Linked DNA regions of Homo sapiens: region 2 is linked to region 1. The links come from fine-mapping of genetic effects on gene expression. A gene starts in region 1. The other region holds a variant in brackets. All regions are shown on one strand. Distances are between the middles of the regions.

The links. PIP is the estimated chance that this variant, and not a neighbour inherited with it, causes the effect.
Region 2: its variant is fine-mapped to the expression of PHLDB1 in monocytes after LPS (Kim-Hellmuth 2017, PIP 0.95).

Annotation. Positions count from the first base shown.
Region 1 is chr11:118,598,410-118,613,854 of GRCh38, reverse strand. PHLDB1 (pleckstrin homology like domain family B member 1) reads right to left here and starts at 6,240. Exons shown (of 23, transcript NM_001144758.3): 1 at 6,156-6,240; 2 at 1-39. The coding sequence starts at 18. LOC124902765 (a long non-coding RNA gene) reads left to right here and starts at 5,344. Exons shown (of 2, transcript XR_007062908.1): 1 at 5,344-5,732; 2 at 6,667-10,956. ARCN1 (archain 1 coat protein complex I subunit delta) reads right to left here. Exons shown (of 10, transcript NM_001655.5): 10 at 10,822-13,230. The coding sequence ends at 13,141. RefSeq lists silencers at 2,954-3,013, 5,529-5,598, 5,659-5,748, enhancers at 3,721-4,394, 4,395-5,069, 5,107-5,401 and a cis regulatory region at 9,008-9,203.
Region 2 is chr11:118,186,913-118,202,357 of GRCh38, reverse strand. JAML (junction adhesion molecule like) reads left to right here. Exons shown (of 10, transcript NM_001098526.2): 7 at 1,746-1,884; 8 at 4,267-4,360; 9 at 5,537-5,623; 10 at 7,941-8,633. The coding sequence ends at 8,033. Among named protein-coding and RNA genes, the nearest start is that of SCN2B, 18 kb to the right of the region's middle. RefSeq lists an enhancer at 7,905-8,094. The variant G/A (reference allele first, on the strand shown) is at 6,161.

The DNA of each region.
Region 1 (15,445 bases):
CCTATTGAGAGCGTCCATGGTCCTAAGGCTCCAGAGCTCCTAGGGACACAGCAGAAAGGTGGTGAGTGGGGAGGCCAGGGCAGGAGAGGGAAAGAAGTAGGTTCTGTGGCAGGGTTCTCAGGGCAGAGGTGTCACCAGTCACCATCATTCCCCAAATGCTCATGCTGAAGGGAAATAGAGGCAGCTAAAGAGCTTGGGTGGGAGTTGTCTGGGAGCAGTGCCAAGTCTCCAGCCAGCCACAGCATGGATACCAGTCCTGCCCCCTGCCACTGTAAGCACAAACAGTCCCATAGGGCCCAATCTATACTTCTGTGCTTTCTTGCCCTATGCTACTCAGAACCCGGGTTTTGACAGCTGAAGACCCTTGGCCCTGTGGAGCCTTAAGCAGGGTGGGGAAAATCTACCTTAGTGGGAGAAGCAGCAAGGAAGCCCCTCCAAGGACACTGGTAGCCAGAGGGCCCCCAGGTAGGTGGCAGGGCTAAAACAGGAGCTCCCTCCTGCAACCTTTCATTCTCCTCTTCACCATTTGTCTCTTTTCCCAGGGCTTTAGTAGGATGTTTTCTTAAAGGAGACACAAAAGAAAAACTCAGCCATTCCTGCTATCTCCAGATGTCTCAACTCCTACACCTTTTCTTCCCCAGAAAGCAACCTCAACCCAACACAATCAGCTAAAAAAATTTTTTTTAATTAAAAACAAAAAACTTTAGTGATAACTAATACTGGGAATATTGGGCTCAACTCTTGGGTTCTTAATTGGCTAGGTGCTATAGGAAGCTTAAACCATTAGAACCAGGAGTAAGACAGATTCCAGAGCCAGAACTTGAATACTCCCCACCACCACCCCACTGCCCCTCACCCACCATGCATCCCTCTCTCCCTGGCTCATGTTTTTGGTATCTGAGATGTGAGGACCTTTGTGTACTAATGTATGCCCCCATGCCCATCCCTTGGCCAACTAGCTAAGCTGAGAAACTTCCCACTTGCTGCTGAAATGTTACTGGGGAAAGCTAAGAGTGTGGCTGAGGGGTAAGGAGGCAGACCCAGGGAAACAGGGTTTCCTTCCACTCTCTCTTCAAGCCATCTACCAGGGGACTTGGAAAGGAAGTAGGGGCAGCAGCCCGCATTCCAAGGAGTGTCTGACCCTGGCAGTGGGTCCCGAGGACCTTAGCTATGGTGTTACTAAATTTACCCTCCCAGCTTCCACCCTTCCGGACCTGGACTGCATCATCTCCGTCACCATTTCCACCCAAGCTGGCGGAAGAGAGGCCGGAACCCAGGCTGGGGCCCACCCCAAGACTGCCAGGGAAGAGGGGAGGGAAAACGCCATTAACCTATGCAAAGCCCCAAGCTGGCCTGGCACCTCCCCAGAATTCCTGGCCATGGAGAAGAATTTCCAAGGACAAAGATTGCTGTACTGCTTCCTTAGACTCAGGGAAATCCCTCAGCATTTTCTGAGGGAGGAGGGGCAAGAGAGTGGGTTGGGAATGGGGAGTTTATGTAAAAAAGGGGTTAAGAAAAACAAAATAATAAATAATGGTGAAGGAGAAACATCATCCTTTGGTAGAAAGAACTTTAGACTGGGATATATAAAGCCTTAAATTCTACCCTGACTTTATTTATTTATTAGCTATAAGATCCTAGACAAGTTATTTAACTTCTCTGATTATCAAGTTATTCTTCTATAAAACTAGAGTAATGGAAAAAAATAAAAAAGACTGTCTGGATCAGTGCTTGCCTGGGGCTAGGGGTGGAATGAGGAGTGACTGTAAAAGGGCACAAGTTTGGTGGGGGTGGGGTGGGGGGAATGTTTTCAAATTAAATTGTGATGATTGCATGGCTCTGTAAATATACTAAAAATCTTTTAATTGCATACTTAAATTGGGTGGATGTTATAGTATATAAATTATACCTCAATAAAGCTGTCAGTTTTTTAAAAAGGACTGTCTGAAATTCAGGTATTATATTAAATGGCATTCTGTGAAAGCAAAGCACTTAATGCCATTTATTATTATTATTATTATTTTTTTTTTTTTTTTGAGACGGAGTTTCACTCTTGTTGCCCAGGCTGGAGTGCAGCGGTGCTATCTCGGCTTACCGCAACCTCCACCTCCCGGGTTCAAGCGATTCTCCTGCCACCAAGCCCAGCTAATTTTGTATTTTTAGTAGAGACGGGGTTTCTCCATGTTGGTCAGGCTGGTCTCGAACTCCCGACCTCAGGTGATCCGCCCGCCTCGACCTCCCGAAGTGCTGGGATTACAGGCGTGAGCCACCGCGCCTGGCCCCGTTTATTATTATGAGCTGTGTGACCTGGAGCAAGGCAGTTCACCTGTCTGGGCGTTAGTTTATTTATCTGTCATATTGGAGTATTGGTCACTATCGCCGTGTGGGGCAGCTGTGGTGTGCTCATTTATTTACACCCAAGAACTTCAAGTGGAGATAAAGATTGTAAAGGAGTAAGGCCGATGGAGAACAAGAGTGATTAGAGGAGAGAAGAGAATAAGGAGGCGAAAGTAAAGGGAGAGATAAGGAGAGAGGTGTGGGGAGAAGATAAGAAAAGATGGAGAGATTGGGAGGTGCGAGGCTGTGGCCCCAGCACAGTAACCTGATCCAAGAGAAGTGGAAAGAGACACCAGGCCAACCTGCCCTGCACTCAGGCGGTGCTTTCCCAAAGGGCGATCGCCGCGGCCGAGAGCGGCCACCTGGGGGCGCCCTCACCTTGACTCCCGCTCTGGCCCCGGCGGCTGAGTGGCGCTACGCGAGGGACGTCCCTCACCTGCGGCCCCGCTTCCATCTGGCCCGCGGCTCCCCAGCAACCCGGCTGTCATTACCCGCCCGCCCGGCCCCGCGGCCAAAAAAAGACCCCTGCGGTGCGCGTCCGGCCCTGGGTGCCCTCCCGCACGCTGGGTACAGACGCCCCAGTGCCGCCCCGGCAGCCGAGTGGCGGAGGCCCAGGTGTCTGGATTTGACGAGCGACAGGCAAGGCCCTCTGTGCGCAAGGCCGGGGCGCCGGCAGGTGACCCCGGCCCGGGCCCTCGGCCTCCTCCCCCGCGGGAATGCGCCGACACCCCAGCCACGCGGGACACCAGTCTGAAGCCCTCTCCGCCGAGTGGAGCACCCAGAGTGAACTCTCGGGGGTCTTGGCCCCCGCCTGAAGGAGGCCAAGGAAGGGCCGACTGGCTCCAGCACCAACGGGCACTGACACAGCTCCCGGGCTCCCACGGAGTCCCAGGACGAGAGGTCCAAAGCCAGCCCCAGAGCACCAGACCCGGCCCTTCGCGGGGCCACTGCTCGGGCGCTCCCCGGAGCCCCGCGGGTCGCCCGGCCTCACCTGTGTCCCTGGGGGTCGGCCTCGGCCTCGGCCCAAGCGGTGCATGGCTGTGGCCAGAGGCCCGCCAGGCCGAGCTGGGGTCCTCTCGGCCGCCGCCTTCGCCCTCCAGGCGCACATCCGCCCTCGAGAAAGGGCCGCCGTCAGAGGAAGGAGTCAGGAAGGGAAGGAAACTGAGGCGGGGAGCCCAGCGGGGGACGCCCGAGTGGGGAGGGGGACGAGAGAACTTAAGGATGAGAAAAACCTGACAGAGATGAATGGGGGTGTGCAGAGGGACGGGGCGGGGAAGGGGAGCCACCGGGATGTGAAGGGGAAAATGAAAGGCAGACTAAGAGATGGGAAAAAATGCAAGCTGGGGAGGGGAAGACCGAGGGCAGAGGATGCGGGGAGACTGAAGAACACAGAGGTGGAGGGGTCGGGGGAAGAAAGGACAGGCGGGTCCTCAAGTGGAGGCGACGACAGACGGGAACACTGGGGATGCGCGAGGGCAGCGGAGGGGAGGCTGACGGGCGGGGAGATGGGGCGAAGGAGAGGGAGGCTGGGGCCCACCGGGACCCCAAAGGCGGAAGAGAGGAGAGATGGGCGGCCCGAGGAGAGGGGGAGCCGGGAGAGCGCGGATGGAGCGAGGGCTGTTGCTTGGGTGTCCGGTGGTGGAAAGGTGCCTCTCCGCGGTCCGCAGGGCCGAGGGAGGGAGGTTTCCGCAAGGTAGCGGCCCCTTGCACCCCTCGGCCTGCTCCTGCCCAGGCTGCCCGCGTGGGACAAGGCCGCAGTGTTGGGCGCCTGCCGCTGCCGCCTGCCCGCCCGCCCCTGACAAGCGGCCTTTCTTTGGCGGGGCAGAGAGAAGGAGCCGCTTGTTTGCGCGGCCGGGAAACGGGGCGGCCCCCACAGACACCGCCCGTTCCGAGCCTGGCAGCTGCGGGAAGGGCGGCTGAATGTGTGTGAGGGGCCGCGTGTGTGAGCTGGGGCTGCGGTGTGAGCTGGGCTGTGTGTGTGACTGGGGCTGCATGTGTGAGGGGGCTGCATGTGTGAGCTGGGCTGCGTGTGTGAGCTGGGCTGTGTGTGTGGCTGGGGCTGTGTGACGGGCTGCGTGTGTGAGCTGGAGTGTATGTGTGAGCTGGGCTGCGTGTGTCAGCTGGGCTGTGTATTGAGCTGAGCTGTGTGTGTGATAGGCTGTGTGTGTGATGGGCTGTGTGTGTGAGCTGGGCTGTGTGTGTAAGCTGGGCTGTGTGTGTAACTGGGGCTGTGTGTGTGAGCTGGGCTGTGTATTGAGCTGAGCTGTGTGTGTGACGGGCTGCGTGTGTGAGCTGGGCTGTGTGTGTATAACTGGGGCTGTGTGTGTGAGCTGGGCTGTGTGTGTGACGGGCTGCTTGTGTGAGCTGGGCTGTGTGTGTGAGCTGGGCTGTGTGTGTGACGGGCTGCTTGCATGAGCTGGGCTGTGTAACTGGGGCAGTGTGTGTGAGCTGGGCTTCGTGTGTGAGCTGGGGCCTCGTGTTTGACTGGGGTGTGTGTGTGAGAGCTGGGGCTGCGTGTGTGAGCTGGGCTTCGTGTGTGAGCTGGGGCCTCATGTGTGACGGGTACGTGTGTGAGCTGGGTTGTGTGTGTGACTGGGGTGCGTGTGTGAGGTAGGCTGTGTGACTGGGGTGCATGTGTGAGCTGGGGCGCGTGTAAGCGGGGCTGCGGGTGTGAGGGGCTGCGTGAGCGCGGGGCGCTTTCCTGTGAGGCGTAAGGCATGGAGTGCGTGGGAAGGCCTCGGCGTGTGGGCGGGTCCGGGTGTGTCTGGGTGGCGTGACGCAGGGACGTAGGTGTGCGAAGTGTCGCGGAGGCGTGCGTGTGTGCCGCGTGGGAGCCCGGCGTGGTGGGGCGCCTGCGTTTGCGTTTGACGGCTGGGGGGTGAGCCCGCCGCCCGATGAGTCAGCCTCGGGAGGCTCCAGGACCGCTGAGCTAACGGCCCAGAATGCAGCCCCGCCCCAGAGCCGTGGGTCCCCGGCAGGGCTGTGCGGTCGCCCGGCCAAGTCCCCACTCGAGCCTGCCTCGGCGGAAGCGCTAGCGGGCGACTCGGCCACCCTGCGCCGGCGCCCCTACCCAGCCGCCCGCCCGCACTTCCCTATCCCGGGGGAGCCCGGATGACTTGGGTCAGCCTCCGCTCGGGGAACTCCGCTAGGGATTCCAATAGGGACCGCGCGGGCGTGGCAAGGCGCCCCAGGCGGCCTCCCCGGCCCCCGAGGACGTGGGGCCTTGGGGAGTGCCTGGGAGGCCCCAGGCGGGCTTCCCATCTCCTGGACACCCCCAGGCAGCCCTCCTAGACGCTCAAGACTCTGAGCCGGACTCCGAATCCCTTCCTGGTCCATCAAGGCGGCCGGCCTGGGGACAGGCGGGGAGACGTCACAGGAGATACCCCCGCCCCAAGGTCCTGCTGTGGGCGGAGAGGGGGAGGTGTGGGGCGCTGGAGGACGAAAACCCGCGCGCGCGCTCGCCGCCCGATACCCCGCGAGTGTCCGCCCGGCCGCCTGGGTGCCGGCGGGAGAGTCTGGATAGGGCCAGGATCAGAGTTTCTCCAAGGGGGGGAGAGCGTCACGGCCCCCTCTGGCGGTGGCGTTGGCAGCGGCCGAGGAAGGCAAAAGCAAGAGGCTCACAGGAAAACTCCCCATAACGCTCCTTTCGCCCCCACGCACTCACCTGGGGTGCCCTCTCTCCCCCACGGGTTTCTGCCGAGCTCCCTAGCCTAGAGCTGATCTCAGGGCTCTCGCCAGGCCCCGGGGACTTCCCCTTATCCAGTCCTAGCACCGCAGCGAATGGGACCCGCAAGTGTAGTGGGACGGGGCGCTCTTACCTAGAGGTGGGGGGGGGGCAGGGAGACACTGGTCCCTTAGCCTGGCTCGGCTCGGTCGCGGTGGCCTCAGGCTTAGGAGGACACCGTTGCTTTTCCCCGGGAGCTCGCTAAGTAGGAGGAGAGCGAGCCTGTCCCGCCCCCCTCCCGCCAGTCCCCGCCCCCGTCCCCCGTCCCGTCCGCCTGGCCAGCCAAAGAAGACGCCCTTGTGGGGCTGGAGCCCAAGGTCCCCCCACCCACCCTTTCCCACAGCAGCACCTCCCCCAGCCTGCACAGCGCCCGCTTTGTTCATCTTTGCAGCTGGGCTCTCCACCATCACCACCACCACCACCACCACCACCACCACCACCACCACCACCACCACCACCACCACACATCCCCCTCTCCTCCCACCCTGCCCTCCCGACTCTCCTAGACCACCCTCCACTCCCAGGCTTTAACACGCTTTTGAGAGGGTGTTTTTGACAATCCGTTCTCCCTCCCCCAAACTCTCCCCTCTTTCTTTTTGCCTTAGATGCCTGAAACCTCCACGGGCTCCCACTGAACCTCCCAAATCGAAGCCCCTACAACATGCTCTCAACATCTCCAGAACATCTACTGAGGGTACCCAGGTCTTCTCCCTGTCACCTCCTCCCCTCGCCCTATTCCAAGCCCCACCATGAAGAGCTGTAAATGACATTGATAGCCACGCACATCAGGCTTCACAGACTTTCTTAAGGATAGGCACAAGAAGACTCGTTAAAGTGTCATGCAAACTCCAAAGCACAGGAAAACCGAATGGAATTATCATCTTGCCCCCATGGAGCTCCACACCCCTCCACCCCGACAGACTTGCTGGATTACAGATTGGGAGATGGAGGCAGGCTATAGACATACAATTGAGCACACCAACCTGTAGTAGGAGTGGGAGTTAATAAGGAAGAGAAGGAGGCACTAAACACCTAAAAGCAGCCCCCAAATTGAGCTAGGTTGAAGTCATTCTCCATCTCAACCTCCACTCCGAAATCCAACGCTGACAGTGGATCCTTACCTTGCAAAGCCAGCTCTTGGTCCAGGAGACTGGCTGGGGAGGCCCTAGGGAGCTGAACTCAGCTGGACTGGACTTCTTTGACCTGCACTAGAGGGACCCTGGAGACTCTTCTTCACTGAAGGAAGGAGCAGAAAGCCTGTAAGTCTGGTCTAAATTCCAGCTGGGGTGGATAGCAAAAAATAATTTATCCTCTTTGAGATGGACAAGTGCTGTTCTAATTCAATGAGTTTAGTTTGTGCCGTCTCTCCCTAACCCAGGAACAGCAGGAGGCTGAACTACAGGAATCTCTGGTCACTCATTGACAGGGCTGGCCTTAGCAGGGGACCCCCCACGGCTGGAGACTGAAGCTGACCGGGGCCAAGCAGCAGACAAGGAGGGGGAGGGGAGAGGCCGCCCTTTGCTGCCACCTGCTATAGCTAATGGAGGTGGAACACTCAAGATCCAGAATATGCTGTGGGTACCAGGAAGTCCTAGGATTTGAGGAGCGAGACTCTAGTTTTTCCTCTCTTCATACTGTTTGAAGTCATGAAAGTAATTCTGATGAACCTTCATGAGGCAGATCACAACAGTAATATTCAGGCTATTTGGGTATGTAAAAAAAGGAAGAAGGAAAAAACCCAAACTGTTGTATCCCATGTGCCAAGACCCAGCACTGAGGGGAGGGGTCCAGATTGCAGTACCTCAGAGGCTTTTCACTTCATTCTGTTTCACGGCCCCCAGCTCCTCTTTACTGTACTGGGCAGGAGGAATTTCAGGGAATAATCAAGCCTGCCATGGAGGCAGTGGATGCTGAGGCAGAGGGTCGAAACAGCACCCAACTTCTCTCACTGACCTCCCAACACAGGGACCAGCTGACCCTATGATAAAGGCGCTGTGCAATGTGTCCTCTCCCCTGCTGTGTCAGGCCTCTATGTTCCCACAGTTAGAGCACTCAGGGGACTAAAGACCTACCGCCCCCACTCTCCATCTCCGCCCTGCTCCACATCTGGAGCCCATCAAAAAACTCAGCGCTCTCTCACAGTTACGCAAGAGGTCGAGCAGCTGGGAGCTCAGGAAAGGGGGAGGAAGAGAGGGAAAGAAAGCAGAAAACAGCTTTCCAGGCCTGCTTCAGACTTTCCGAAGTGGAAGCAGGGGGAGAGGGCAAAGCCTGGGTGTGGAAGGAAGAGTGGATTTTTCTAAGGCCCTTTGCATTGGCTACAAGTGTCAGGAGTGAATTTCCATACTCCTGCTTTTGCCTTGGCACATTCCCCACTTTGTCCCACCTCTCAAATTGTACTCCCTCTAGCCCCAGAGAGGTGATTATTGCTCATACAGCAAGCAATCCTTGTAGATACACACCCTCTTCCAGAAAGCTGTCCGTTTCTGGCCTCTGGATCCTGAAGTCAGGCATCATTGGTGTAGGCGTGGTGGTAGCAATGACCCTGCAGCAACTTGGGGAAAAGTTCAAAGCTCTCTTTTCAGCTGTCTTAGAAATTGCATAGTCTGCTTCGACCCAAAGCTAACATGCATCCAAGCTAAGTGGGAAATTTGGGTAGGACAGAAGACTGGTCTTGTGTACCTCCAAGGCTAAGGGCTTTCCTAATGAGCTAAAAGAACAAGCATTCATTTGGGCAAAAGAATGGGAGACAAGACCTATTTCAATTTCTCTCATTGTCTTGAATTTCTAATGCTTCTTTCAAACAGCCCCTGTCCTGGTTTGGTAATCAATCTGATCACCCAGAGTAAACCTAGGGAAGCTTTCCAGTATTGGTTTAGACCCTAAATAACCACTTAGCCCCTGCCCTAAGAACAGCAGGGCAAAAAAACTGCGGTGGGGGATGGGAGAAGTGGTCCAAGCTTCTGAAAACTGCCTAATAGCTTGACTTGTGATTGTGAGAGGGAAAACAGCCTGGTTTGGAAAGATAGTCTAATTTTTCTAAAGGCCTACCTCCGTATCAATCCCCAACTCCCCAGGATAAGACGTTAAGGCAGCTATTTGTAGTGTTGCTGTCTGCCCTTGGGTAACAGCAATGCACAGCAACCAACCTACTTGTGGATCTTCTAGGACAAGGGAATTGGGGGTAAGGGGGTTGTAATAAGACAGATGTGCATAGCAAAAGAAAATCATTTGTGAGGTTTTGCTTGAGATTCCTCTAGAGCCTACAAGACAGAAGCCATGTTACCTACTCTCATATAGATCCATGTTTAGTACTAGCTGTAGTTAACACTTGTCTAACTTGGAAAAAAAAAGGCTTCACAAGCAGATAGTCATTGCTTCCAGTTAGACTTTAATCTTCTTGAGGATGACTTTTTCCATTTTTCTCCTGTCTCCTTCCAATAAGCCCTGTCAGATGTGAAGTTTAATAAAAAGCTATTCTATATCAACCCTGGAAATCTCAGACCCTAGCCAGTGTGAACAACTTTAAAACTGTTCACAATTTAAAAATTAATTGGAGGGCAAAGTTTCCCATCAGAGATGCATGGGTTGACAAATTTGAAGCTATGGTGAGTAAAGGAATGACAGACCTTAATCATTTCATTCGATTAAGGCTACAGTCTCAGACAGCTAAGCCACACTTGAGCAACATTAGACCAGATACTTTTTTTCACCAAGAAAAAAAAAATCAGAATCTTGGCTTTCAACATTAGAAATTTCTCATCCCAGATACTTAATAAGTGAGAATAATTTGCCTTCCAATTTTTTGACACCCAATAGTTTTTCCAAGTTAAATTTTAAAAAAGCATAAGAAAGTAAGCAGCTCTGGCGGAGCGCGGTGGCTCAGGCCTATAATCCCAGCACTTTGGGAGGCTGAGGCGGGCGGATCACGAGGTCAGGAGTTTGAGACCAGTCTGACCAACATGGTGAAACCGTCTCTACTAAAAATACAAAAATTAGCCGGGGGTGGTGGTGTGGAATGCCTGTAATCCCAGCTACTCAGGAGGCTGAGGCAGGAGAATCACTTGAACCCTGGAGGTGGAGGTTGTGGTGAGCCGAAATCATGTCACTGCACTGCAGCCTGGTGACTGTCTCAAAAAAAAAAAAAAAAAAGGCTGGGCGCGGTGGCTCACGCCTGTAATCCAGCACTTTGGGAGGCAGAGGTGGGCGAATCATCTGAGACCAGGAGTTCAAGACCAGCCTGACCAACATGGTGAAACCGTCTCTACGAAAATACAAAAAAAATTAGCCCGGCATGATGGCGGGTGACTGTAATCCCAGCTACTCTGGAGGCTGAGGCAGGAGAATCGCTTGAAGCTGGGCGACCGTGGTTGCAGCGAGCTGAGATCGCACCACCACACTCCAACCTGGGCAGCTAAGCGAGACTCCATCTCAAAAAAAAAAAGTAAGCAGGTTTATCTGAGGGAATTATCAACAGTTCCCAAAAATTGTTCCCATTATCCCTCATCCCTGGATCACTTCTCATCACGGTCTAATGGGGAAGAGAAGACTCCAAGACTCCAAGATTAAAGATGAAGCCTGACTTTTTTGACTCTCCAACTGCCGTCTGACAAAATTAAGACTCCAATCCCCAAAAAGGCCAGAAGTAGCATCAAATTCAAAAGCTACACTGTCAGGAGTGCATGTATCAAATGTAGAAAAATACGCAAGGAAGCACAATACATATAAGATGGAAAAAGGCAATGAATACTCTCACAGATTACTTTCTCTTAAAAAAAACATGTCATTAATTTTTAATGTTAGGTCCCATTACAGCATCCTGAATCAACAAGCAGACACCAAAGTGAGTCAATAATCCAATAAACATCTCATTTTATAATGCGCTTTATTTGATTAAAGAATTTGCCTTCTTTGTATACACTGGAATGTTATATTCCCTATGTATTTTACAGGGTTACAAAATGTCTCTCATTTTAAATATTACCCCAAAAGTAATCTCAGAAAAAAAAGGTTTTTTGAAATTAAACTTGACTTTTAAAAAATCATACGGACAAACAACTTTCAAACAAAACTGGATTAGTAGGATTTCTTGCCTGCTTAACTAACATGACAGACTTCTTGTCCCAAGCCCTTCTCAGAAAAACCTCATGTGGAAACCAAGCTAGAGATAAGAATTCTTCCCTGATGCAGTTAGGGGAAAGGGAAAGGCTAGAAACTTCTTTGGCAAGCAATTCCACACACAGCCATTTATGTGTGAGTGCTCTGCTTCAAGCACAGTACACTCTTTGCAGGGACGGCCAGATGTTCAGAGTGGGAGTGGTACTTTTCAACCAGCTAAAAGTGCAGAAGTCATCTAGTCGTCTGCCTCTTCCCACTGCCAGTGCCTGCAGCCTTGCAGCAACTTTTAACCACCCCTATGGACTGGAATATTGAGTTAAAAGCCAAGGCTGAGCTGGCTGACGCTGTAGTCTCCATTGAAAAGGAAATGGATGAGATGGAACCGAGAAACCACCAGTACATGATGACACTCAAAAGACTTAGGGGGAAAGAGAAGGAAGGATTTCAGAGATGGGGACAGACTGGTGGAAAATGTTGGGCTGACTGGAAGGAAATGGGGTATACGTGAGTAATATGTACATATCGAAACAATCAGTTGCCTCCTGAAATGCAAAAAATCAAATGGTGAAATGGAGCCTCCTTGATAGTTTAGGGCCAACAGGATTGGCAAAGACTCCCTGAACCCACAGCCTTCAAAATCATAACCCCATTTCTGTTAGAAAGGAGGGGACTGATGACAGAGAGTGCAGTCTGGAAGAGGGAGGTGGTGAAACTGAGGAATGTGAATGGATTACAGACTGTGGCCATTACGTTTTAGCTTAAGTACCCAAAATGTGGAGAAATGAAAATTTGGGTAGCAACAGCAGCAGACATGATTACATGTGGATGTGAAATCCCTAACTGGACAGACATAACCATTCTTTTAGACATCTTGAAGAGGGACTGTGCCATTTGAAAGGTGCTTCTCAGCTATCTTTAATATTGACACAAGTGGGATTCATGGTACTGTTCTAAACTGGAAGGACAGGCCCTGAAAGGAAAACAACTTGGCAAAGAGATGAAGGAATGAATTGATACGGGAAAAGAACAGAAGACATGCGTATCTTTTAACTTCTAGACCCCATACCCCTCAAATAGTTCACCTGAATAGTCCAAAAATCAAGAATGGGTTAGATATACTTGTTCCAGGAGTGCCAAATAAATATAATGCCTGTAAACAGATGATCCCAGTGCCTGACTGAATGTATAGAAAGAAAAACCTAAAGGTAAAGGGTATGAATGATTAAAATTTTCTACAGAGAAAACTTTTTAAAAACAAACTAAGTATGAAATATAACTATATTTAGGGATTATATTTAGGGATTAAAATAAAGGAGCAGCTGGGCATGGTGGCTCATGCCTGTAATCCCAACACTTTGGGAGGCTGAGGTGGGCGGATTGCCTGAGCTCAGGAGTTCGCGACCAGCCTGGGCAACACGGTGAAACCCCGTCTCTACTAAAATACAAAAAATTAGCCAGGCGTGGTGGCGTGCACCTGTAGTCCCAGCTACTCGGAGGCTGAGGCAGGAGACTTGCTTGAACCCAGGAGGCGGAGGTTGCAGTGAGCTGAGATCATGCCATTGCATTCCAGCCTGGGTTACAAAGTGAGACTCCATCTCAAAAAATAATAATAATAATAATAATAATAATAAAATAAAAATAAAGGAGCAACTTAGGTAAAGGTAGAGGAGGTATTTAACTGGGGGCATTCTCTGGAGAGCTTGCTTTCCTGCTGGCCAATACAATCTGCCAAAGAAAATTAGCAGCCTTTCCCTTTATGTTTGTGCCATTTCCTTATCAAAGAATGTCTCTGTGACACTGAAACATGGGGGTGAGTCGAGGGTCCTTGCGCGCAGAGAATCGTGCATTGTATCAGAAAAAAGGGGTCTCCAGTGGCTTGTAAATCTGGGAAAAACTCTTCAGCCATCATTGGCGTCTTCTTTATTAATCTGAAAATTTTCCTTTTCAGCTCCCTCTTCTTGGTATTACAGAATTTCATACTTATCCACTAGGAAAGTGGTCTCTGTGGAAAACCTGACGGGGCTGTTTCCATCTACCTGGGTCACTTTGGTAACCTAGGAAAATAAACAAAGAGTAAGGTAAAGCAGGAGGTTTGAGTCTCCATCATGTTGACTACATTCTCATTACAGAACATATCAATTTCCCTAAAAGCGGTATTAAAAGTAACTGTAAAATACTAGAAAAATGTTCAATTCACAACTGAAAGTCACAGCATCACTCTTCCCCACCAAAATGATTAAGCTGCTTTTCTTCTAGATGGAGAAAAGACAACTGTTGGGACGAGATGTTCCGTAGTATTAAGTAAAAGCTCCAAAATGAGTGGCCACAGCCCAGCCCTGCCCTGTATAACCTATGAAATTCATAGACATTCTATCAGGATGATATATTAACATTCTGACCCAAAAGGCAACGTTCTAGCTCTTCACATTATTCATTTGCTCTGCTCTCAAAGTCTCGTGTTAAAAGTCCCAGTAAGCTGCTCTATCATACTTATTTTTTAGGCATGGCTGGTCCAATGAGGTTTTTCCTTTTTAAATAAATAAATGTCCAGCTTAATTAATTACATGTAACAATGGTACCTATAACGGCACCAATACAACACTTGAACCACTGATTCGTATTTTCTAATGAAGTTTTGGGAGAGCAATTATAATGTCCTAATCTTTGAATAGCCCCAATAGGAAAATTTACCCATTTCTATCTAATGTCTTGAGTTCAATACAGTTGCTTCCAACACTGATGGGGTTATGTCACTAACAGGATAGGGAGAGAGAACTGCTCTTTGGAATCATTCAAGGGAGGAAGCTGCAATTTTCTAAGCATTTACAGGGGAGACGGAGACCATATGGGAAGCTAAGGTAGGGCCAGAACAACAAGCAAGTCAAAAAGAGGGGAATATTAATAATATAAACTGGGTCCTAGTAATGCAAATTAAAAAACTGGAAGAACAGCCAGACGTGGAAGCTCACTCCTGTAATCCCAGCACTTTGGGAAGCCGAGGTGGGCGGATCATCTGAGGTCAGGAGTTAGAGACCAGCCTGGCCAACATGGTGAAACCCCATCTCTACTAAAAATACAAAAAAAAATTAGCTGGGTGTGGCAGTACACGCCTGTAGTCCCAGCTACTTGGGAGGCTGAGGCAGGAGAATCACTTGAACCTGGGAGGCAGAGGCTGCAGTGAGCTGAGATCGCACTGCACTCCAGCCTTGGTGACAGAGCAAGACTCCGTCTCAAAACAACAACAACAATAAAAACTGGAAGAATGATGAGTTAAAAAATAATGATCCGGGCCGAGCGCGGTGACTCGCGCCTGTAATCCTAGCACTTTGGGAGGCCGAGGTGGCTGGATCACGAGGTCAAGAGTTTGAGACCAGCCTGGCCAACATGGTGAAATACCGTCTTTACTAAAAATACAAAAATCAGACAGGCGTGGTGGCGCATGCCGGTAGTCCCAGCTACTCAGGAGGATGAGGCAGGAGAATCGCTTGAACCTGGGAGGCAGAGGTTGCAGTGAACCAACATCACGCCATTGCACTCCAGCCTGGGCAACAAGAGTGAAACTCCGTCTTAAAAAAAAAAAAAATCCGCCAGGCGTGGTAGTTCACGCCTGTAATCTCAGCACTTTGGGAGGCTGAGGTGGGCGGATCACCTCAGGTCAGGATTTCGAGACCAGCCTGACCGATATGGTGAAACCCTGTCTCTACTAAAAATACAAAAATTAGCCAGGCATGGTGGCAGGCGCATGTAATCTCAGCTACTGGGGAGGCTGAGACAGAATTGCTTGAACCCGGGAGGCAGAGGTTGCAGTGGGCCGAGATCATGTCACTGCACTCCAGCCTGGGCAACAGAGCAAGACTCCGTCTCAGAAAAAAAGGAAAAAAATCCATTGGGCACTGTGGCTCACACTTGTAATCCCATCACTTTGGGAGGCTGAGGCGGGTAGATCACCTGAGGTCGGGAGTTCAAGACCAGCCTGACCAACATGGAGAAACCCCGTCTCTACCAAATATACAAAAATTAGCAGGGCATGGTGGCGCATTCCTGTATTTCCAGCTACTTGGGAGGCTGAGGCAAGAGAATTGTTTGAACCTGGGAGGCGGAGGTTGCGGTGAGCTGACAGCGCGCCATTGCACTCCAGCCTGGGTGAAAAGAGCAAAACTCCATCTCAAAAAAAAAAAAAAAAAAAAAAATCCGAAGGAACAGCTCACACATCTCCATTGCTTTGCCTACCTAAAGGACAGAGTTTGCAACAGAATTGGCTCATGATTA
Region 2 (15,445 bases), 410 kb after region 1:
TTCTATGTCTTTTTTTCTTCAGCTCCATTCTGTGTCTTTCTTTTTCTTAAGATTGTTTTCCTGAGATACAATTCACATACCATACAATTTGCCCATTTAAAGCGTTCAGCTCAATGGTTTTAGTACATTCAGAGTTGAACAACCACCACCACAATCACGTGTTTCTTTCTCAACATAGCCAAATAGCTTGCTAAAGGTCTGTGTTTGGTATCTTACTGTCTCATCTCCCATTAACTCCTCAGTGCACTGCATTCTGGCTTATTCTACCTCTACTCCAGCTTAGATCACCAATGGCACTGCAATTATCCATCCTCAGCCTTCTCTCCTTCAGTAGCATTTATATGCACTCTATGTTGGACACAGTTCCACACACACCCATGGATATACTTAGTCAACTCTACACAAGTTTTCCACAAATCCTTCATATGCAACATGTCTAACCTACCCCTGCACACCCCTCCTCAGCCCATCTCCCCAACCTCAGTTGTCTAACTAGATGCCTGGGGGTGTGCTTGATTCTTTCCCTTTCCTAGACCCCTAATCTAACAGGTCAGGTCAACAAGTCCTTGACTCCTACTACAGACTCTTGAAGTTGTCTTCCTTCCAGTCTGTCACTGCCGCCTTAGTTCTGGCTGTCTTCATCTCTGTCTTGAACTGTAGGCCTCTAACCAGTCTCTGCTTTCTCTCTCAGCCACTGCTCCTCATTCTTCACGCGGCTCTTGGTGCCATCTTTCTAAATCACATTAAGAACTTTCTCTTCCACTGCTAATAATCTTTCAATGTTGTTTTCATTGCCTGCAGAAAAATGCCAGATTCTTGGTTGAGATAGTCAAGGTCCTTCCTGACTTGGACCCTGTCATCTCTCCAGCGAAATTCTCCAGCACACCCACAAATGCCACTTTTGTGCCAGACCCGTTGAACTCTTTCTAGTTTCTAAAATCATCATCCTGTCAGGCCTCCAGATCTCATGCAGAACATCCCCTCTGTCCTTCTCCATATTGTCTTCCCAACAAACTGGATGTTTCCTGTAAGTCTTAGGTTAAACTTTAGAACTTTTGCTGGCAAATTCTCACTTGCTGCATATAGAATTGGACACCCTTTTTTCTGTGCCCCTCTGTTCCCCATACAGACTTCTGTTGTAGCGCCTACAGCAGCCTGTGGTTTTCTGTTGACGTGTTTGTCTTCTTCCTTGGAAGCAGGGACCACACATCATCATTCATCTCTGAATCCCCTGTACCTAGTGCTGTCTGGCCCTGAGGAGGTGTTTGCTTTATGTATTTAGAAAGAACCATGCAGATGAGTAGAAGGTTCCATATGGGCAGAAGTACCTCCGGAGGCTTTACTTGGTATCGTCACTGTGGGGCTGAGTCTTGCGGCATGAGTTCTTTTGAAGACAACCACTTGCCCTAAGGAAGATCAGCAGCCTCTCAAATGCCTGTTATTTCTGGGTCCTTGTTAAGCCAAATTTTAGAATAGAATTGTTGATGTGAAAGGAAACTTTACTAGAGGTGAACTGCTAGCCTCTTCTCCCACCCACCTTAATCTACATTTTAGGGTAAACGAGGGGGTTAGACTTTGGTTCTCAATCTCATGGAGACAGTGTCCCTAGTGTCCAGATATGGGGTGGAGTCTGGCCTTCCCCTCCGCTTCGTGGCCTGGCTGGTGCTACTTGGTATAGGGCTGTGGGGCTCTCAGCTCTTTGCTAAAGTATTGAGACCCTCTCCTTGCTTTTCTACTTTCCCAAGCACTGGTGACCCCGGCAGCCCTGAGGCCTCTGGTCTTGGGTGGTAATCAGTTGGTGATCATTGTGGGAATTGTCTGTGCCACAATCCTGCTGCTCCCTGTTCTGATATTGATCGTGAAGAAGACCTGTGGAAATAAGAGGTACAGGGCTACCCCCACCCCTTGGATTGGGAGGCTGGGGGTGCAAGGCTGCCTCTACCCCAAAGTAGAACAGGGTGATAGGGCCCTACTTATGCCATTCTCACAGAAGGGGGTATTTTTAAATGGAATCATCTGTGGTAACCCTGCCCACTTTGCTTACTGTGCCCGGGAAAAGAATTTAATATTCCTACGCTCTCCTCATTCACTTTGTTATTATGTAAAGACTACAAACTCCCTTAGAAATGGGGGCCTCAGTAGGGCATAATTCAGAGCATAAATCTTACACAAGAACTATCATGGTACCATTCACTGCCTAAAAGATGATTTTTAAATTATCCATACTGTACGTTCCGCATAGAAGCTAAGATCTTAAGGGTTGCCAGTGGTTTTATCTAAAAGACCACATTCTAATTATGAGATACGATCTTTGAATGGGTGCCCTCAGGTTCTAAATGAATTATTATTAAAAGATGCTTTTGGCCAGGCGCAGTGTCTCATGCCTGTAATCCCAGCACTTTGAGAGGCCAAGGCGGGCGGATCACGAGGTCAGGAGATCGAGACCATCCTTGCTAACACGGTGAAAAGCTGTCTTTACTAAAAATGCAAAAAATTAGCTGGACGTGGTGGCATGTGCTTGTACTCCCAGCTACTTGGGAGGCTGAGGCAGGAGAATGGCGTGAACCTGGGAGGTGGAGCTTGCAGTGAGCCGAGATCACGCCACTGCACTCCAGCCTGGGTGACAGAGCGAGACTCTGTCTCAAAAAAAAAAAAAAAAAAAAATAATAATAATAATAATGTGCTTTTAAAGGCCTGAATTTCATCGGTAGTTCTCCCAGGGTCTCAGAAGTGCCCAGATGCTCCAACAGGGACACTTGTGTTTCACTGGCTGTTGGCAGATCCATGTCCCTCAGTTTATCCAACTATCGATGGAGTATGCTTGTAGTGCAGATCGACTCCCTTGTTGAAATAGTGTCAGTGGGAAAGGGCCTCATGAATAGTCCTGACTTTTGAGTGTTCTTTCCCAGTGGGTCTTGGATCCTGCAGAAAACACTTGTGCCTGCTAAGTTTTCACTTGCACTCCCTAGGGCTTCCTGATTTGGTTTTGAACTTGGCTGGCCTCTCTAAAGGTCTTTGCTCTGGGCATGCTCGGAGCACTGAGCTAGACAACCTGGATTCCACTCTCAGCTTACTTCCCCTGTCGGGACCTCAGTTTCCCGCCAAAGGAAAGGTAGCACTTCCATGTCTAGTCGTTTATTCTAAAGAAATAATTAAATGGATATGCTGAGATTTGTGCAAAACTGCCGTCTTGCTTATAATTAAAAATAGGGATAATTGCCAGTGTCTGTCAGAAAGGCAACGATTCAGTGAACCAGTCAATGAAACACTCCAGATCCCTCTACATAATGACATGGAAAGATATCCAAGGAGTAAAAATACAGAATTTATGGTATGACCTCATTTTTATAAAAGAGAAAATAATATGATGCTCACTCCAGCAGCATATGTACTAAATACATTTTATGTGAGCTTATGCTTACACTGAGAGAGGCTTGGAAGGACAGTTGTAAAATGTGGGTAATTGTGTGGAATTTGAAGTGAAGGAGAAGGTGGATCCCATGGGGTGACGGGTTGCAGGGAACTTCCACTTCCAACTGTCTACATTTCTGTATTATCTGAATTATTTGACAGTGAGAAGATACAACTTTAAAAGCAGAAAATACAAGGAAAATATTTCCACTGAGACCAAAACATATGGTTTCTTTTCTAGCTTAAACCTTGAATTTTTTTTTTTTTTTTTTAGTTCTGACTTAGGCCAAAATAGAAAAAAAGAAAGTATGTTCAGAAGGCAAATGGTCATGAGATCAAAGGCCAAGGGACCCCGACAGGGCAGGCGCAGAGCTCCTGCTTGGGGCTTGGGTCGGGTGTTTGTGGGGGTTATTCTGCTCCGCCCCCCGGAAAGGCCAGGAGCCCTTCGGATTGGCGTCTTGCTGAGCTCCTGCTGCCCCCTGCTGGTTTCGCGGCACTCCCTGGTCCTCAGAAATGTAGACAGGATGGTCAAATGGAATCCCATCTCCCCTCTCTCTCTTCATTCACTTAAAATTACCTCTCCCATACGGACTGAAAGTGGCTTGAGTGATAATAGAGAAGTTGAAGCTGCTTTTCAGCCTAAATTATCTCCAGAACGGCTTCTTGTTCTTCATTAGAAGAGATGCGCTTCTCAGGTTTCCAGGTGAGCCGGGTAGCCCTGGCTGTAGGAGTCCAGAGAGAATAGTTCCTTCTCTGGTGTCTCTCTCTTCACGAAGCCAAGAGGGGATCTCATGTAGGGACCCTTGAATAAACCATGCCCGCTGGTTAATTCCACATGCTTTTCATGTCTTGCAGTTCAGTGAATTCTACAGTCTTGGTGAAGAACACGAAGAAGACTAATCCAGAGATAAAAGAAAAACCCTGCCATTTTGAAAGATGTGAAGGGGAGGTGAACACACGCTTCAGCCTAAAACACTAAGTAGATGCAGGCCTGGGCCGTTCTCATACCCCCGGGAACCATATCTTACCCATTGTATGTCGCAGCTTGCAGGCCAGTGCTTGGCACAGAGCAGGGACTCAGGAAGCCTTTGTCACTAAAGTAAGAGCCTCTGCGGAGTACAGTGCATGGGGTCGGCTGGGACAGCCCCAGGCAGCAGATCCTGGTATTGGGCTGAGGAAAGAGCACTGCGCTTGGAGTCAGTAAGATCTGCCACCTCCCTGAGTCTCATCAGCAAAATGAGGATAAAGATAAAGATACTATAGTTGCCCAGCCTGCTTGACAGGGTTGTTGTAAGGTTCACATAAGATGATGATATGCAAATGCTTTGTAATCTAGGAGGTGCTATTTGTCTAAAGTCTAATGGAGAATTATAATACATCCAGGAGTTAAGGAGTTCTAATGCTTAAAATGAAATAGTCTAAGATCTTAGCAAGAAAGGATTAAGAAGGACTTTTCTCTCCATATTGATTTTGTAATGGAGTTATAAATAATTGCTTCTAGAGACTGAGAAATTGATTGGTTTTCTTTAACTCCTATTCTTTCTTTTCTTTCTTTAATTTTAAAAAAACTCTTTGAATAGTTACCTTTCTCTATTTTGGGCTGTTTTTGTCCCAAGAGTAGGATTTTTTCCCAGTAGAGTGCAGTGGTCCAAGAATGGGCCACTGGATGATACTGCTTTACCAACGAGTGACAGGACCATGAACCTCACAGTTGTGAGGTTCAATGAGGGCTGGCCCTGCCACATAAATCCTCTGAGGGAGATGATGACAATTCACTGCTGATTAATGCCATTCTGCCTTTACTGTAATTAGAAGGAAATAACCCCAGAATACAAGGAATTTAGCAAGATAAGGAACCCCTGCTGCTACCTAAACATCCATCTAAACAAAGATGTTTGGCTTTTGAAGCAAAGAGTTTGGTTCTTAAGACTGTGTTCTTTGACAGTTAATTTTCAAGAAGACTGAAGACTGAATTATCATTGTTGAGAATTCTCTAGGTCTCAGTAACCCTCTGAACCAGCAGTTTGGGTGGTCGATGCCTAGCAAATAGGAGTGGGTGGCCTTTTCTCTGGTGTATAAGATTCATCTAATTTTTAGGAATTTTTGTACCATTTTCCCCCTCTAGAAACACATTTACTCCCCAATAATTGTACGGGAGGTGATCGAGGAAGAAGAACCAAGTGAAAAATCAGAGGCCACCTACATGACCATGGTGAGAATGATTCTGGCCTCAGCTGAGCCAGGTGTCAGAGGCTCAGGTGGTGGTGGTGGTGGGCGTGGCTGGGTTGCCCAAGGGAGGCTGCTGAGGGCGGTGATTTTTCTAAGTAGCAGAAAAGTCTGAGAAACTGAAGTTCTGCTGGATAGAAGAGTGATATCAAACTTTCTTACCCAAGCTCAAGGATTAAAGGTTATCACCAGAGATTATTTATATTAGTGGTGAAAAGAAGTGAAGAGTGGCTTTTACTGAGGGCAGGGAGGACGTCTTTTGCCTCATCAGTTCAATCTAATAAAGAAAACACGGCCGGGTGTGGTGGCTCATGCCTGAAATCCCAGCACTTTGGGAGGCCGAGGTGGGCGGATTGCTTGAGGCCAGGAGTTCAAGACCAGCCTGGCCAATGTGGCAAAACTCCCTCTCTACTAAAAATACAAAAATTGGCCAGGTGTGGAGATGCGTGCCTATAATCCCAGCTACTTGGGAGGCTGAGGCACGAGAATTGCTTGGACCTGGAAGGCGTTGGTTACATGAGCC[G/A]AGATCCACCACTACACTCCAGCCTGGGAGACAGAGTAAGACTCTGTTTCAAAAAAAAAAAAAAAGGCCGAGCATGGTGGCTCACACCTGTAAACCTAGCACTTTGGGAGGCTGAGGCAGGTGGATCACTTGAGGTCAGGAGTTTGAGACCAGCCTGGCCAACATGGTGAAACACTGTCTTACTAAAAATACAAAAAAATTAGCCAGGCATGGTGGCGGGCACCTGTAATCCCAGCTACTTGGGAGGCTGAGGCAGGAGAATTGCTTGAACCTGGGAGGTGGAGGTTGCAGTGAGCTAAGATCGCGCCACTGCACTCCAGCCTGGGAAACAGAGCGAGACTCCTGTCTCAAAACAACAACAACAACAAAGAAAATAGGATAAATAGGATAAGATCCTTGGGCAAGTATTGTGTTGCTGTGAGTCGTTTTCCTTGCTATCAAAAGGTCAAAGTAGGGTTCCTTCCAATGCTTAGATTTTGTTTCTTAACTTTGTGACTTATTATACCTTCTCATAACCTAACTGCCAGGCAGGCTGCATGCTGGATCTCATACAATATTTTGGAGTCTGATTCCTAATTTCCCTTTGCTTAGACTTCTGTAGCCCCTTAGAGAACTGCAGTGCCTGGAAAAGGCACCTCGGGGCGTGCAGTGAGTGGGGGTAGGGACAAAAGGAGTGAGCTGGCGATGAGCACGGTGCTATTTGTAGACTAATTATAGGCACCCAGCCTATTAAGGAGCAGTGTTCTGTGGGTTTGGGAAGGCTGGCCTCCTCTGCTTGTGGAATGATGGGCTTTGTTTGTTCCTATCGTACCAGCCCTGAGGACACATGACTCCCAGCTGATTGCAGCAGAGAGAGGTCTGCCAGGGAAGTGTGAGATCAGAGGCCTGGCCTGGATCCACCGAGTGAAACATTAACTCCACCCTGAAGTTGCAGCTGAATGGAATCATTTTCCCTCTGTATCTTTCTCCCATACTGTTATGTGATGCTGCAGTAACTTGCGAGGCCTCATCCTGGCTCCTGGAGACCTGCTGATACAGCTGCCTTGTGGCTACTGCTGAGTGGGTCACCAGCCAGGGTGGCACTGTTTGCAGAACGTCTCCGAGGTGGAGATGATGCAGGAGGAACAATTGTCTTCACAGCTAACTTCCCCAGGTTTAATGCTAGGCGATTATGGTTTTGATTCTGTTGAAAACACCATTCCTGTCCTCTTGATCTAGATCCAATAGAGTAAGAGAAGAGGCCTGGGCTGCAAACTCAAAGGCTGGCAGGGGCCAGTCAAGTTATTTTAAAATATGATGTGCCAAGTTAAATAAGGCTGTTGGTGAATTTGGGACTGCAGGCCACTTGTTTGAGACTGCATTTATAAAGGTGTTCTCTGATAGGGAGCAGGGGTAACAAAGAGCCTTTGTTTTTTGTTGTTGAATTGATGAAATTCATGTAAATGTAGTGGCACCTTGCTGTTTTCCCTTTCTGAGGCTGTACACACAGAGGTTAAGATCACAAGCTGTGGAGTTAGACAGACCTGGGTCCAAATTCTAACTCTGTGTTGCAGCCAGATGGTCTTGGGCAGTAACTTGGCCTGTCTGAGCCTCAGTTTCCTTATCCTTAGAAAGGCAATAATAATACCTACCTCCTGGTGGTAAGGATCACATGAGATAATGCATATGAAATTCAGTACTGGGCCGGGCTCATGAGAAGAGCTCAATGAACAGCAGCTGCTATGATTATGGAACTACTTCTTACAAGCATGTTTTGTTTCTTTCTGCCCTTCCCCCACAGCACCCAGTTTGGCCTTCTCTGAGGTCAGATCGGAACAACTCACTTGAAAAAAAGTCAGGTGGGGGAATGCCAAAAACACAGCAAGCCTTTTGAGAAGAATGGAGAGTCCCTTCATCTCAGCAGCGGTGGAGACTCTCTCCTGTGTGTGTCCTGGGCCACTCTACCAGTGATTTCAGACTCCCGCTCTCCCAGCTGTCCTCCTGTCTCATTGTTTGGTCAATACACTGAAGATGGAGAATTTGGAGCCTGGCAGAGAGACTGGACAGCTCTGGAGGAACAGGCCTGCTGAGGGGAGGGGAGCATGGACTTGGCCTCTGGAGTGGGACACTGGCCCTGGGAACCAGGCTGAGCTGAGTGGCCTCAAACCCCCCGTTGGATCAGACCCTCCTGTGGGCAGGGTTCTTAGTGGATGAGTTACTGGGAAGAATCAGAGATAAAAACCAACCCAAATCATTCCTCTGGCACATTATTTCTAAATAAGTGTTGTTTGTGGAAATCGTCCTATTTTTATGCCTCGGTTGAGGGGGCAAGTAAAGTCCTGGTGAGGAATTTACAGTTAGAAACTTTTGGAAAAACTGAAGTTCCTGGAGGAAAGCCAAACCGTGCTAACACACTAGAGGCTGGTTTTGGTCCTGGGAAAGGTTTGGGGTGAATGGGTTGGAAGTAGGGTATGAATACAGTTTTGGGATTTAACTCAGTGGTTCTTCATTCCTGCTGGTGGCTCCTTGCGGGGCCTCACCACATGCCTCCTAATTTGAAATTTCTGGGTGAAGTTTAGGCATTTGTCTTTCCTGATACTCATGGGTTGCCACAGTGGACAGCCACTGATTTAATTCTTGGTCTGAAATGTGCGGTTCCTATACTTTTAGTTGCTATTGTAAGATTTGATAAGGTTAGTCTTAAAAATCCTTTGGCGGGGGGCATCCAAATTGGTAATGAGGAAGTCAAACTGTCTCTGTTTGCTGATGACATAATCATAAACCTTGAAAACCCTAAAGACTCATCCAAAAAGCTCCTAGAACTGGTAAATGAATTCAGCAAAGTTTCAGGATACATAATTAATGTATACAAATCAGTAGCTTTGCTGTACACCAATAGCAACCAAGCTGAGAATCAAATCAATAACTTAATCTCTTTTATAATAGCTGCAAAAAAAATTAAAATACTTAGGAATATACTTAACCAAGGAGGTGAAAGACCTCTACAATGAAAACTACAAAATACTGCTGAAAGGAATCATAGACAGCACAAATGGAAACACATCCCATGCTCACGCATGGGTAGAATCAATATTGTGAAAATGACCATACTGCCTGTATTTAGTTTGTTTTCATGCTCCTGATAAAGACATACCCGAGACTGGGAAGAAAAAGAGGTTTAATTGGACTTACAGTTCCACATGGCTGCAGAGGTCTCAGAATCATGGCGGGAAGTGAAAGGCACTTCTTATACGGCGGTGGCAAGAGAAAATGAGGAAGATGCAAAAGTAGAAACCCCTGATAAAACCATCAAATCTCATGAGACTTATTCACTACCATGAGAACAGTATGGGGGAAACCACCTCAATGATTCAAATTATCTCCCACTAGGCCCCTCCCACAATATGTGGGAATTATGGGAGTATAATTTAAGATGGGCTGGGTGCGGTGGCTCTCGCCTGTAATCCCAGCACTTTGGGAGGCCAAGGCAGGCAGATCACAAGGTCAGGAGATCGAGACTATGGTGAAACCCCATCTCTACTAAAAAAAATACAAAAAATTAGCCGGGCATGGTGGCGGGCGCCTGTAGTCCCAGCTACTCGGGAGGGTGAGGCAGGAGAATGGCATGAACCCGGAAGGCAGAGCTTGCAGTGAGCTGAGATTGCACCACTGCACTCCACACTGGGCAACAGAGCGAGACTCCATCTCAAAATAATAATAATAATAATACTTTAAGATGATATTTGGGTGGGTACACAGAACCAAACCATATCATTCCACCTCTGGCCCTTCCAAATCTCATGTCCTCACATTTCAAAACAAATCATGCCTTCCCAACAGCCCCCAAAAGTCTTAACTCATTTCAGCATTAACCCAAAGTCTACAGTCCAAAGTCTCATCTGAAATAAGGCAAGTCCCTTCCACCTATGAGCCTGTGAAATCAAAAGCAAGCTGGTTACTTCCAACATACAATGGGGGTAAAAGGTATTGGGTAAATACAGCCATTCCAAATGGGAGAAATTGGCCAAAACAAAGTGGTTACAGGGCCCATGCAAGTCTGAAATCCAGCAAGGCAGTCAAAATTTAGAGCTTCAAAAATGATCTCCTTTGACTCCAGGTCTCACATCCAGGTCACACTGATGCAAGAAGTGGGTTCCCATGGTCTTCGGCAGCTCTGCCCTGTGGCTTTGCAGGGTACAGCCTCCTTCCTGGCTGTTTTCATGGGCTGGCAGTGAGTGTCTGCAGCTTTTCCAGGTGAACGGTGCAAGCTGTTGGTGGATCTACCATTCTGGGGTCTGGAGGATGGTAGCCCTCTTCTCACAGCTCCACTAGGCAGTGCCCCAGTAGGGACTCTGTATGGGGGCTCTGATCTCACATTTCCCTTCTGCACTGCCCTAGCAGAGGTTCTCCATGAGGGCCCCGCCCCTGTAGCAAACTTTTGCCTGGGCATCCAGGCATTTCCACACATCTTCTAAAATCTAGGCAGAGGTTCCCAAACCCCAGTTCTTGACTTCTGCGCACTCGCAGGCTCAACACCACATGGAAGCTGCCAAAGCTTGGGACTTGCACCCTCTGAAGTCATGGCCTGAGCTCTATGGTGGCCCCTTTCAGCCATGGCTGGAGTGGCTGGGATGCAGGGCACCAAGTCCCTAGGCTGCACACAGCGCGGGGACACTGGGCCTGGCCCATGAAACCATTTTCTCCTAGGCCTTCTGGCCTGTGATGGGAGGGGCTGCTGTGAAGACCTCTGACATGCCCTGGAGACATTTTCCCCATTGTCTTAGGGATTAACACTCAGCAACTTGTTACTTATGCAAATTTCTGCAGCCAGCTTAAATTTCTTCTCAGAAAATGGGTTTTTCTTTTCTATCACATTATCAGGCTGCAAATTTTCTGAACTTTTATGCTCTGCTTCCCTTATAAAACTGAATGCCTTTAGCAGCACCCAAGTCACCTCTTGAATGCTTTGCTGCTTAGAAATTTCTTCTGCCAGATACCCTAAATCACCTCTCTTCAGTTCAAAGTTCCACAAATCTCTAGGGCAGGGGCAAAATGCCACCAGTCTGTTTGCTAAAACATAACAAGAGTCACCTTTGCTCCGGTTCCCAACAAGTTCCTCATCTCCATCTGAGACCGCCTCAGCCTGGACCTTATTGTCTATATTGTCATCAGGCTTTTGCTCAAAGCCATTCAGCAAGTCTCTAGGAAGTCCCAAACTTACCCACATTTTCCTGTCTTCTTCTGAGCCCTCCAAACTGTTGCCACCTCTGCCTGTTACCCAGTTCCAAAGTACCTTCCGCATTTTCAGGTATCTTTTCAGCAGTGCCCCACTCAATGGGTACCAGTTTACTGTATTAGTTGGTTTTCTTTTTTTTTTTTTTTTTTGAGACGGAGTCTTGCTCTGTCACCCAGGCTGGAGTGCAGTAGCGTGATCTCGGCTCACTGCAAACTCCGCCTCCTGGGTTCATGTCATTCTCCTGCCTCAGCCTCCCGAGTAGGTGGGACTACAGGTGTGCGCCACCATGCCTGGCTAATTTTTTGTATTTTTAGTAGAGACGGGCTTTCACCACGTAAGCCGGGTTGGACTTGATCTCCTGACCTTGTGATCCACTCTCCTTGGCCTCCCAAAGTACTGGGATTACAGGCGTGAGCCACCGTGCCCGGCCATTAGTTCGTTTTCACACTGCTGATAAAGACATACCCGAGACTGGGAAGAAAAATTGGACCTACAGTTCCACATGGCTGGGGAGGCCTCTGAATCATGATGGGAGGCAAAAGGCACTTCTTACATGGGGGCAGCAAGAGAAAATGAGGAAGATGCAAGAGCAGAAACCCCTGATAAAACCATCAGATCTCATGAAACTTATTCACTACCATGAGAAGAGTATGAGGGAAACTGCCCCCACGATTCAAATCGTCTTTCACTGGGTCCCTCATACAACATGTGGGAATTATGGGAGTACAATTCAAGATGAGATTTGGATGGGACACAGAGTCAAACAATACCACTGCCAAAAGCAATCTACAAATTCAATGCAACTCCCATCAAAATACCTCCACCATTCTTCACAGAAATAGAAAAAACTATCCCAAAATTCAAATGGAACCAAAAAACAGCTTGCATAGCCAAAGCAAGATTAAGCAAAAAGAGCAAATCTGGAGGCATTACATTCCCCAACTTCAAACTATACTATAAAGCCAGTCATCAAAACAGCATGGTACTGGTATAAAAATAGGCATATAGACCAATGGAACAGAATAGAGAACCCAGAAATATAGCCAAATACTTACAAGTCAACTGATGTGTGATAAAGCAAACAAAAATATGAAGTGGGGAAAGGACACCCTATTCAACAAATGGTGCCGGGATAAATGGCAAGCCACATGTAGAAGAATGAAGCTGGATCCTCATCTCTCTCCTATACAAAAATCAACTTCAGATAGATCAAAGACTTAAATCTAAGACCTGGCTCCATAAAAATTCTAGGAGATAACATTAGAAAAACCCTTCTAGACATTGGGTTAGGCAAAGACTTCATGACCAAGAACCCAAAAGCAAATGCAACAAAAACAAAGATAAATAGATGGGATTTAATTAAACTAAAAAGCTTTTGCACAGCAAAAGAAATAATCAGCAGAGTAAACAGACAACCCACAGAGTGGGAGAAAATCTTTGCAATCTGTATATCCAACAAAGGACTATTATAATATCCAGAATCTACAAGGAACTCAAATAAATCAGCAAGAATAAAACAAACAAACCCATAAATTAGTGGGCTAAGGACATGAATAGACAATTCTCAAAAGAAGATATACAAATGGCCAAGAAACATACGAAAAAATGCTCAACATCACTAATTATCAGGAAATGCAAATCAAAACCACTATGCCATACCACCTCACTCCTGCAAGAACAGTCATAATAAAAAAAAATTTTTTTTAATTTTAAATTTTAGATGTTGGCATGGATGTGGTGAAAAGGGAACACTTTTACAAGGTTGGTGGGAATGTCAACTAGTACAACCATGATGGAAAACAGTGTGGAGATTCCTTAAAGAACTAAAAATAGATCTACCATTTGATCCAGCAATCCCACTACTGGGTATTTGCCCAGAGGAAAAGAAGTCATTATATGAAAAAGATAGGCTGGGCATGGTGGCTCACGTCTGTAATCTCAGCATTTTGGGAGGCCAAGGCAGGTGGATCACGAGGTCAGGAGTTCAAGACCAGCCTTGCCAACATGGTGAAACCCTGTCTCTACCAAAAATACAAAAATTAGCTGGGTGTAGTGGCACATGTCTGTAATCCCAGCTGCTTGAGAGGCTGAGGCAGGAGAATTGCTTGAACCTGGGAGATGGAGGTTGTGATCTGAGATCACACCACTGCACTCCAGCCTGGGTGACAGAGCAAGACTCTGTCTTGAAAAAAGAAGAAAAAAGATGCCTCCCCATGCATGTTTATAGCAGCACAATTCGCAATTGCAAAAATATGGAATCAGCCCAATTGCCCATCAATCAATGAGTGGTTAAAGAAAATAAATATGGTATATATATATATATATATACACATCATGGAATACTACTCAGCCATAAAAAGGAATGAAATAATGCCATTTGCAGCAACCTGGATGGAACTGGAGAACATTATTCTAAGTCAAGTAACTCAGGAATGGAAAACCAAACCTCATATGTTTGGGAATGGGAGCTAAGTGGGAGCTAAGCTATGAGGATGCAAAGAAGAAAATAAATATGGTATATATATATACCATGGAATACTACTCAGCCATAAAAAGGAATGAAATAATGCCATTTGCAGCAATCTGGATGGAACTGGAGAACATTATTCTAAGTCAAGTAACTCACGAATGGAAAATCAAACATCGTATGTTCTCACCTATAAGTGGGAGCTAAGCTATGAGGATGCAAAGGCATAAGAATGATACAATAAACTCTGAGGACTCAGAAAGGGTGGGGAGGTAAGGGATAAAAGACTACACACTGGGTACAGTGTACACTGCTCAGGTGATGGGTGCATCAATATCTCAGAAATCACCACTGAAGAACTTACTCATGTAACCAAACACCACCTGTTCCCCAAAAACCTATTGAAAAAAAAATCCTTTGGGGTTGGGTGCAGTGTCTCATGCTTGTAATCCCAGCACTTTGGGAGGCTGAAGGGGAGGATCACTTGAGGCCAGGAGTTCAAGACCAGTCTGGGCAACATGGTGAGACCCTCATCTCAATAAAATAAAGTAAAATAAAATAAAATAAAATAAATAAAATTGATTAGCTAGGTGTGGAGGTGCATGCCTTTGGTCCCAGCTACTCAGGAGGCTAAGGTAGGAAGATCACTCAAGCCCAGGAGTTAGAAGCTGCAGTGAGATATGATTGCGCCACTGCACTCCACTCCAGCCTGGGCAACAGGCTAAGATCCTGTCTCAAAATAAGAAAGAGGAAAGGAAGGGAAAGGGAAGAGGAAGGAAAAGAAGAAACTAAAGAATATCCTTTGGTTCTGAACAACTTCCAGCCTCTGCGGACCAGCCTGGGTTCAGCTCTGGTCTCCTTTCCTTGACTGCTACAGACTCTTTCTTATTCTCTGCAACCCTTTCTTCATATTTAGCCATGCAGGGCCAGATAAAGAGGAGGTCTTTTCTGTTTTTCTGATTTCTGATCCAGTCTTAAATGGGGCTACATTTTTTTTTTCCTTTTTTGAGACGGAGTCTCGCTCTGTCACCCAGGCTGGAGTGCAATGGTGCTATTACGGCTCACTGCAACCTCTGCCTCCCAGGTTCAAGTGATTCTCTTGTCTCAGCCTCCCAAGTATTACAGGCGATTACAGGGATTACAGGCACACACTGCCATGCCCGGCTAATTTTTTGTATTTTTAGTAGAGACGGGGTTTCACCATGCTTCCCAGGCTGGTCTTGAACTCCCAAGCTCAGGCAATCCACCTGCCTCGGCCTCCCAAAGTGCTAGGATTACAGGTATGAACCACTGCGGCTGGTGGGGCTACATTTTTAATGATTTCCCCCAACTCTCCAAACATTAGGATCCTCTCATAACACACAGGTTATGTTCTAGTTTAGACATGGATAAGCATCATTAAATTCTTCCTTCCTATCTGCCAGCTCTTGATGAGGAGTTATGTCAGGGTTTTCCATATGGGTATTGAAGGCAGTATCCTGTCCCAGACATACCAGGGACACATATTGGTGAGACAAGTAGAGGGGGAAGAGGACTTTATTATATCTGGAGTGTTCATGGAGAGGAAGTGGTTTCATTTCTGGGCTATTAAGTAACTTCTCTC